Homo sapiens: one gene and its partner. The protein of the gene in region 2 interacts with the protein of the main gene of each other region in a pairwise test. Each region holds a gene or a part of one and is shown on either strand. Other genes may lie near its edges. The genes, in order: AATK and MTMR6.

What was found.
Region 1: the proteins of MTMR6 (region 2) and AATK interact in a two-hybrid assay, tested with the Homo sapiens proteins (one study listed by BioGRID and IntAct).

What each region holds. Positions count from the first base shown.
Region 1 is NC_000017.11:81,163,838-81,167,744, forward strand, and holds the start of AATK (serine/threonine-protein kinase LMTK1), read right to left. Parts: upstream 2,385-3,907; 5' UTR 2,156-2,384; coding exon 2,101-2,155; intron 1,911-2,100; exon of another isoform or gene 1,670-1,910; intron 1-1,669. UniProt on the Homo sapiens protein: May be involved in neuronal differentiation.
Region 2 is NC_000013.11:25,280,736-25,284,642, forward strand, and holds part of MTMR6 (phosphatidylinositol-3,5-bisphosphate 3-phosphatase MTMR6), read right to left. Parts: intron 1-3,907. UniProt on the Homo sapiens protein: Lipid phosphatase that specifically dephosphorylates the D-3 position of phosphatidylinositol 3-phosphate and phosphatidylinositol 3,5-bisphosphate, generating phosphatidylinositol and phosphatidylinositol 5-phosphate.

The DNA of each region.
Region 1 (3,907 bases), on a different chromosome or scaffold from region 2:
CCGGCCCGGCAGCGGGGCAGGGCCTGGCAACTGAGGTGAGACCCCCATGTCAGGTGCTAGCACTGCCCCAGATGCTGAGTGACACACAAGCCAACTGCCAGAGCCACAAGCGTGGGCCCCTCCCCTCTGGGTGCCCCCCCACAGACACAAGCAGCCTCAGAAGGAACCAGCTCGCTCCAATTCGGGGATGGCAAGGAGCCAGCCACATGCTGTAGGAAGCTTGGGCCCTGGGGGTCTCTGTCCCAGCACCACCACTCCAGCACAGACAGCCAAGTGCTCACCAAGCACTGAGCCCACCCGGGCCTGCCACAGGTACTGTCGGCCCATGTCATAGATGGGAAAACCGAGGTTCACAGAGGCAAGGCCAGGCAGAGGGACTGCAGCACAGGACAGCCAGGCTTGGAAGGCTGGGCTAAGTTTAGCGGGAGGGCAGGAGACCCCTCTCTCCTCCCTAACCCTCTCATGGGGGCTGGTGCAGAGCCTAGACCCAGCCCCTTAATCCGAAGGAGGGTCTCCTTCCTCACCAGCACCAGCACCTTGGGCAGCCCCTCCTGGTAGGTGGGCCCCAGAGCCCAGCAGGTGCCTGCAGCTCTGGCCCAGCATCTTGCAGAGGAGAGACGCCCCTTGCCTCCAACAACTTCTTTTCCTCTAAGTCATTAAACGGACACATTAGAATTATTCAGATCACAGCTGTTTACCCAGAGAAGGGCAGAGCCGGTGCTGCTCGAAGGCGGGGGAAAGGGCCTCTCATGGCCAAGGACAAGGCTGGGCCCCGAGGCAGGGTATGGGCCGAGGGTCCTCTCTGTTCTGGGGGCAGAAAGGACCAAGCACCGTGGGCCACGCCTGGCATGGAGATGTGATGAGGACCTGCCCCAAGCCTCCTCCACCCCCTGCCCTTGGGCCGGGGAGACATTACAGCTGTTGCCGTGGCTGTTGGGCTCTGAGCCTTCACCTGCCCACCCCACAGGGACTTCCGAGCCCCAGGGGTCACTACAGGAAGTCATTTCTGAGCAAGTGACACCCACAGCCCTAAGCCCAGCAGACAGACCTCCCACCAGCTCCCTTCCTCCAGGGAGCAAATGCCTTCAGACCGAGATCTGCCCCGGGGACCCCCGTGCCTCCCTGCCAGGCTGCGTGCACTGGGCCCTGCTCCAGGGAAGGAGACACAGGAGATCACGTCACATGCAAACAGGCTTTGTTTGGGCTGGCTCAGCCTGGTGCCAGAGCCCCAGTGACGTGTGGGTGGGACTTGGCCCTGGGGCCATGGATGGCACAGGGCAGGGGGATTATCTCCCACTCAGGCCAAGCAGGGGCCGGATCTGGAGAAGCAGAGGTTTTAGAAAGCCCACTGCTTCCTGGTGACAGATGGGGCTTCCAGCTGTCCCCAGCCCCCTCTGCCTATCCCAGCTGTCCACCACAGCCAGGAGGCCAGGCAGCCATGGGTAATCTCGCCCTGCCCGGTGCACTGGCCATACGGGGTAAGAGGCCTGGCCTCAGGTCCCCTGCAGCCAGCTTGACAGCGTCACCTCGGGCCCCCACTGTCAGGGGATCTGGGCACCCACCAAGGCCCCTCTCTTCTGAGCCTCTGCCCACTGGGCTCTGTAATGTGGACTGGCCCCTGCTCCCCCCACATCCCCCGCCGGCTGCTGGTGGCTGGGCAGGGCTCTGAGAATCGCTCCCAGCCTGGGAAGAAGCCTCCCACGCCAGGGCCCCGGACCCAGGAGAGGCCATGGAAAGCCTGAACCCCAGCTGGCTGACACCCCCCACACCCCCAAGGGCCCTTAGTCTGAGACCAACTCTCCTGGACACCAGGGGCCCACGCAGGCCCTCCGTGCCCCAGTTACCTGTGCCCTGGAGGCAGCCACGGAGTCACGACCACGCGGGGGACGCCAGCCCACAGGCGGAGGCCGGTTTGTGCTGGGGCCCAGGGCCTGCCCCTCCGAGATCTGGGGCCGCCAGGGGGTCCGGCTGCTTCTGCTGCTGGGCTCGGGGCGGGGAAAGGGTTAATTTCCATGCAAACCGGGAGCCGTGGGGCCCAGGGGCATCACGTCCGCAGCGGAGGGAGGCAGCGGCGCGCAGGCCGGGCCGCCAGGGACTCACCGGGGTCGAAGTGCGAGCTGAAGGCGAAGCTGGGGTTGAAGAAGGACGACGACATGGCCGGGCCAGCGGCCGGCGGGCATCCCGGGAGGGCGCTGCGCTCAGGACGCCCGCGGCCCCGGCCCGAGCCGCCGCATCACCCAGCGGCCGCCGCAGGTGCGGAGCGCGCCGGCCCCCGCGCCCCGCGCCCCCCGCCGCAGCCGCAGAGCCCGCACCGGTGGGGGCGGCGGCGACAGACGAGGCGCTCCGCCCGGCCCTGGCGCCGCGGGGCTCCGCTGGTGCAGTCCGAAAACGCGGGCGGGAGCGCGCGCGGAGCGGCGCGGGGGAGGGGGGGGCCCTCCGCGGCCGGGGTGGCATGGGGGGAGCACGGAGAGGGGGACACGGAGGGGGAGACAGAGGGGAGCACGGAGTGGGGGACACAGAAGGGGGCTTGGAGGGGGGACACGGAGGGGAGGCATGGAGGAGGGGGGACGGGGGGCCGTGCACGGAGCGGGGATGGCACGGAGTGGGGGGATGGTCCGGAGCGGGAAGCACGGCGGCCTGGGGCTGAGGGGGGCACGGAGGCTGGCGGGGGGGGGGGAAACGGAAGTCGTGAATGGTAAGTCGTGAGTGGGTACGGAGGGAACGCCGGGGTGGGGGAGGGGGTACTCCTAGGTGGAAAGGTTCAGGGAGACAGGTGGGGGAACCCGGGAGCACACCCAGGGCGGGTCTTGGTGCTCAGGGGCCCTCGCCTCACTTGCAGGTTTCGAGGCGGCTGGCAGCCGCCCCCCCACCCCATGCCCTTTGGGTGGCACCTGTGCTGGTGGAGTGGGGGTGGCTGGCTTTGCACACAGGCCTGCTCCTGTACCGTGCTGCGACAGCCATGAAGGAAGAACCTGGCTGAGTCTCCACCTGCCGTGGACTGTACCAGGTGCTTAGGGCAGCAGGTTGGCCTGGGCGCTGAGGGGCCATCCCTTCCCCTATGTTTCTCCCAGGATCCCCCATCCCCGCCCAAAGTGCCACCTTGCAGGGTTGGGGCGGGGCAGGGTCCCCCCAGCCTGCCCCCGTGGGAGTCGGGAGAGTTAAAGTTCAGTGGAAGCTGGTCCCAGTGGCTCATGCCTGTAATCCCAGCACTTTGGGAGGCCAGGGCAGGCGGGTGGCTTGTGCTCAGGGGTTCCAGACCAGCCTGGGCAACATAGCAAGACACTTTCTCTACAAAAATTAGAAAAATGAGCCAGGCATGGTGGCGCTCACCTGTAGTCTCAGCTACTTGGGAGGCTGAGGTGGGAGGATCACTTGAGCCTGGGAGTTAGAGGCCGCAGTGAGCCAAGATGGCACCACTGCACTCCAGCCCGGGTGACAACAAGATCTTGTCTCAAAAAAAGTGTCCTGGAGACTTGCAGTTGAGTTTGATGCACCCTCATCCACTCATTCATTCACTCACTCATTCATTCACTCACTCATTCATTCACTCACTCATTCTGGGACCAGATGGCTAAGCCCCTTGGCAAGGCCCAGTTGGGGTTGGGGGCTGTGGAGCAGGTGAGAGGCGCCCACTCCAACAGGGCTCTTAGGACTTTAGGGAGAGAAAGGAGCCTGTTCCCGGCAGAGGGACCTGCAGAGACCAGGACAGGATGCTTGGGCCACGGGGCAGATGGGCACCAGGACCCACCCTTCTTTTCCTAAGGGGGTCCCTCATGTAGGAAGTTTCCTCCTAACAGGCAAAGCAAGGGGCCTCCACCCTGTGCCCTCAGACCTTAGGGGTCCCTGGCTGTAGGAGACAAGACACCAACTGCACCTGGGGCAGAAGGAGACAGGGCACCCAGAGCCT
Region 2 (3,907 bases):
TCATCACAGCCAAAAAGTAAATGAAAAAAAAGAAAAAAAGACTTTGGGAAAAGAAAGAACAAACGAAAAACGAAAATGTGGCAAGGAGAAAGGAATTGGAAGATGTCGCTTTGGTGAGGAATGGTAAATGCCAACACACATTACTTTAAGGACTATTTAGTTGAATTGTTGCCAACTATGGGCCTGCACTAAAAGGTACCCTAATGGTCCAGGCAGAAAGTTCAAATTTCAGCCAATTATAAAATTAGAACTGGAAAACACAGAGAACCCCACACATACAGAATCACACTCAGAAAATGTTGGGGCCACTACAGGTGTAGTAGCTTACGCTTGTAATCCCAACACTTTGGGAGGCCAAGGCAGGAGGATTGCTTGAGACCAGGAGTCTGAGAACCAGTCTGAGCAACATAGTGACACCCTCATCTCTACAGAAAAAGAAAATTATTTTCTAATTAGCCAGGCATGGTGGCATGCTCCTGCAGACCCAGCTACTTGGGAGGTAAAGGCAGGAGGATCGTTTGAGCCCAGGAGGTAGAGGCTGCAATGAGTTATGATCATACCACTGCACTCCAGCCTAGGTGACAGAGCAAGATCTTGTTGGAAAGGAAAGGAGAAAGACAGGAGAAAGGACAAAGAAGAAAGGAGAAAGGAAAGGGGAAAGAGAAAAGAGGAAAGGAAAAGGAAGGAAAGGAAGAGAAAAGAAAAAAAAGAAGAAAAGATTCCAAATGAAAAACACAGGGAGTCACACAAACAGAATCACATTCAGAAAATTCAGACACCTCTTTATCCCTGAGGAAAAAGTGGCCTCTGGGACAGGAAGGGACCAATGGCCTTCTTCAGACTTCTGTGACCAACAGTTGTACTTATTCTACAACTACATAACAATAGACGCTGTGGCTACTGAAGCAGAAAGTGCACCATCACTGTTCCTCTGGCTTGTCGCACTCCTTCCCTATAGCCAGGCACTCATCTAGGACTCTCAGAATCATTTCACACTGACATCCTGCCAAGAATTAGCTTTCAAAAAGAAAGCACATCAAGTTGTGTGCAGGAAGTGGAGGGCAGAGATTATGGTTTCTGTTCATGTATCCCAATTTCTAGAACAGTGTCTGGCTGCATAAATTATCAAATGAAACAGTCATGGACCTCAAGAGGGGAGAGAGTAACCTCAGATCGTAAATCCAGTGGGCACTTTTCAGTTTTTTCTTACTTTGCTTATTCCATCAATGGCTTCCTATCTCACTCAAAAAAAGCAAAGATTTTACAGTGGCCTTCAAGACTACAGTAACTTGCCCCTGTCCCCCAACTTTAATCTTCTACTGTGCTCTTCTTCACTCACCCTGCTCTAGCTGTCTTGCTTGTTCTTAGCAACCAGGCATGCCCTCAAAGGGTTTTTGCCCCTGTTGTTCCCTTTGTTGGGACTCTCCCCGCCATCCCCCATGTGGGGATGGCTTACTCCCTCACCAGTTTCAGGTTTATACTCAAGAGTCACCTTCTCTGTAAGAGCTTCCCTAACCACTCAATTTATAGCAGTCCTCCCTTAAACCCCCTCCTCAACCCTCATACTCTTCAGAGCCCTGGCTTGCTTTATTTTTATCCACAGCATTTACCACCATCTAACATACAATACATTGAACTTAATTTTGTTTATTGTTACCTCTTCTCCAACTAGATAAGTTATAAGGGCAGGAGTTTTTGTCTGAACCTAGAACAGTGCCTGGCCCAAGGAGGAGGAAGCAGCCAGAGGATGGAGCAGAGAAGGAAATTAGAACACGGAAGACTGTCACCTTCCCATCTGTGCTTCACCTCTTCCAAATGCATCCGGCTTCTCCTCCTCTGCTTGCTCGCCCTCTTCTTTTTTCTTTTTTCTTTTTTCTTTTTTTTTTTTTGAGACAGAGTGCTGCTCTGTGACCCAGGCTGGATGCCGTGGCACGATCTCGGCTCACTGCAATCTCCATCTTCTGGGTTCAAGTGATTATCATGCCTCAGCCACCCAAGTAGCTGGGATTACAGGTGCCCGCCACCATGCCCAGCTAATTTTTTGTATTTTTAGTAAGACAGGGTTTCACCATGTTGGCCAGGCTGGTTTCAAACTCCTGACCTCAAGTGATCCTACTGCCTCGACCTCCCAAAGTGCTAGGATTACAGGTGTGAACCACCATGCCCGGCCTGCTTGTCCCTTTTTAAGTGTTTAGACTTTTCTCCACAGAGTCTCAACATATTCTCCTTGCATAAACTCATTCACAATAGAAATTTCAATGATTTACCTAAACACAAACAACTCCCTCCCAAATCTACTCAAGGCCAGACCTTTTCCCTCACACTAGATCCTCACATTCAGCTAGCTACTAGAAAAAAATCTGACCACCTAAGCTTCTTCTATCCACCCCTCCTCTCTGTTCTTACTCACACTGCCCCAACTGACTAATCAAATCTCTTGATTAGATTATTATTCTGTGAGGCAAGAGAGTGTGGTTAAGAGAATAGGCTTGCTATCAGAAAGACCTACATTCAAGTTCCCACCTCCACCTCTTCTTTGGTAGAACTAACTGTGTGAGCCAGGACAAGTTATTTTATTAATTCTCTCAGGGTTTCAGTTTCCTCACCTGTAAAATGGGATAGTATTAGTGAAAATCAAAACAACACTTTACTTGGAAAAAAGCATTCAGGTGCTCCTCAAAACCTATTGGCTTTTATTTCAAAGACAATTTAAATAATATCAGTTTCTCCTTATTCTTGATCCATTCTTATTTTTATATCTCCTTTCTTCTTTCAGAGGGAAGGTATATTTGTATACATACATAGATGATCTCACATTCTAATGACAAAAAGAGGGAGCAAGCTAAAGAACATGTTAGGCATAACTTTTGGAATAACTCAATTTGGGCCTTAGTAGGATCAGATTTTTATGGGACATTCCATTTGATTACAAACGCTAGCAATCAGCCTTTCATTTATAGCTTAAAAAAGGTTCTTCCATTCCATTCAGTAAAGTTCCATTCACAGGTAAGACAATATCATTTGACATCAATATATAATGTCAGCCAAAGTACTGGCAGGGAAAGGAGAAAGACTGCATAAAGAACTGTCTCTGCATATTTCTCATTGTTTCTTGGCAGGACTATGTCATTATGGCAAAATGAGAGCTCAAAGCGATAGGTAGTAGCTGCATGATTCATAAGTGTAGCTTGGAAATGCTCTTTCAGAAATCCAGATTCAGGGACTTGGCATCTTTGATGCTATACAGTTAGTAAACCAAATGTGACCAAAACAGAATGATAAATATGTTCATTAGTATTCAGCTAAAATACTTAATCTGATAAATCTCTGGTTAGCAAGCAATAATGATCCTAAATATTATTTAAAAACAATACCGCATAAATATTATTTATTTATGACAAAAAGAGGTTTGGGGGGGAAGCTCTTAGAATTATCATCAGCATTTATTTCTGAATTAATACTAATGCACATTTAACAATTAGATTAAAACTAGAGAGGCACTGGAAAGAGCATACATAGTCTTTGGAGTTAAACACACCTTAGTTTAAATACTAATTCTATCTCTTGTGAACTAATTGAGCAGGTTACTTAAATTCTCTAAGCCTATTTCCTCCTCACCTATAAATGGAGATAATACTACCCAACTGACAGGGTTATTTAAGAGATCAGTGATGATAATGTATAAATTAACAGATTTATACAATTGTACATATTATAAAGTAATAATATTGTATAATTGGCTATATTGACATATAGTTGCTCAATAAATGGTAATTATTACTTTTCAAATAGAGCTGACTGAACAACAAAAATCACTAAATAGTCATAAAGGACACTCTACGGTCAATTTTGATCCTAATGACTAAACTACATAGAGGTCAAAACAGCTAATAAATCTAAAACAATC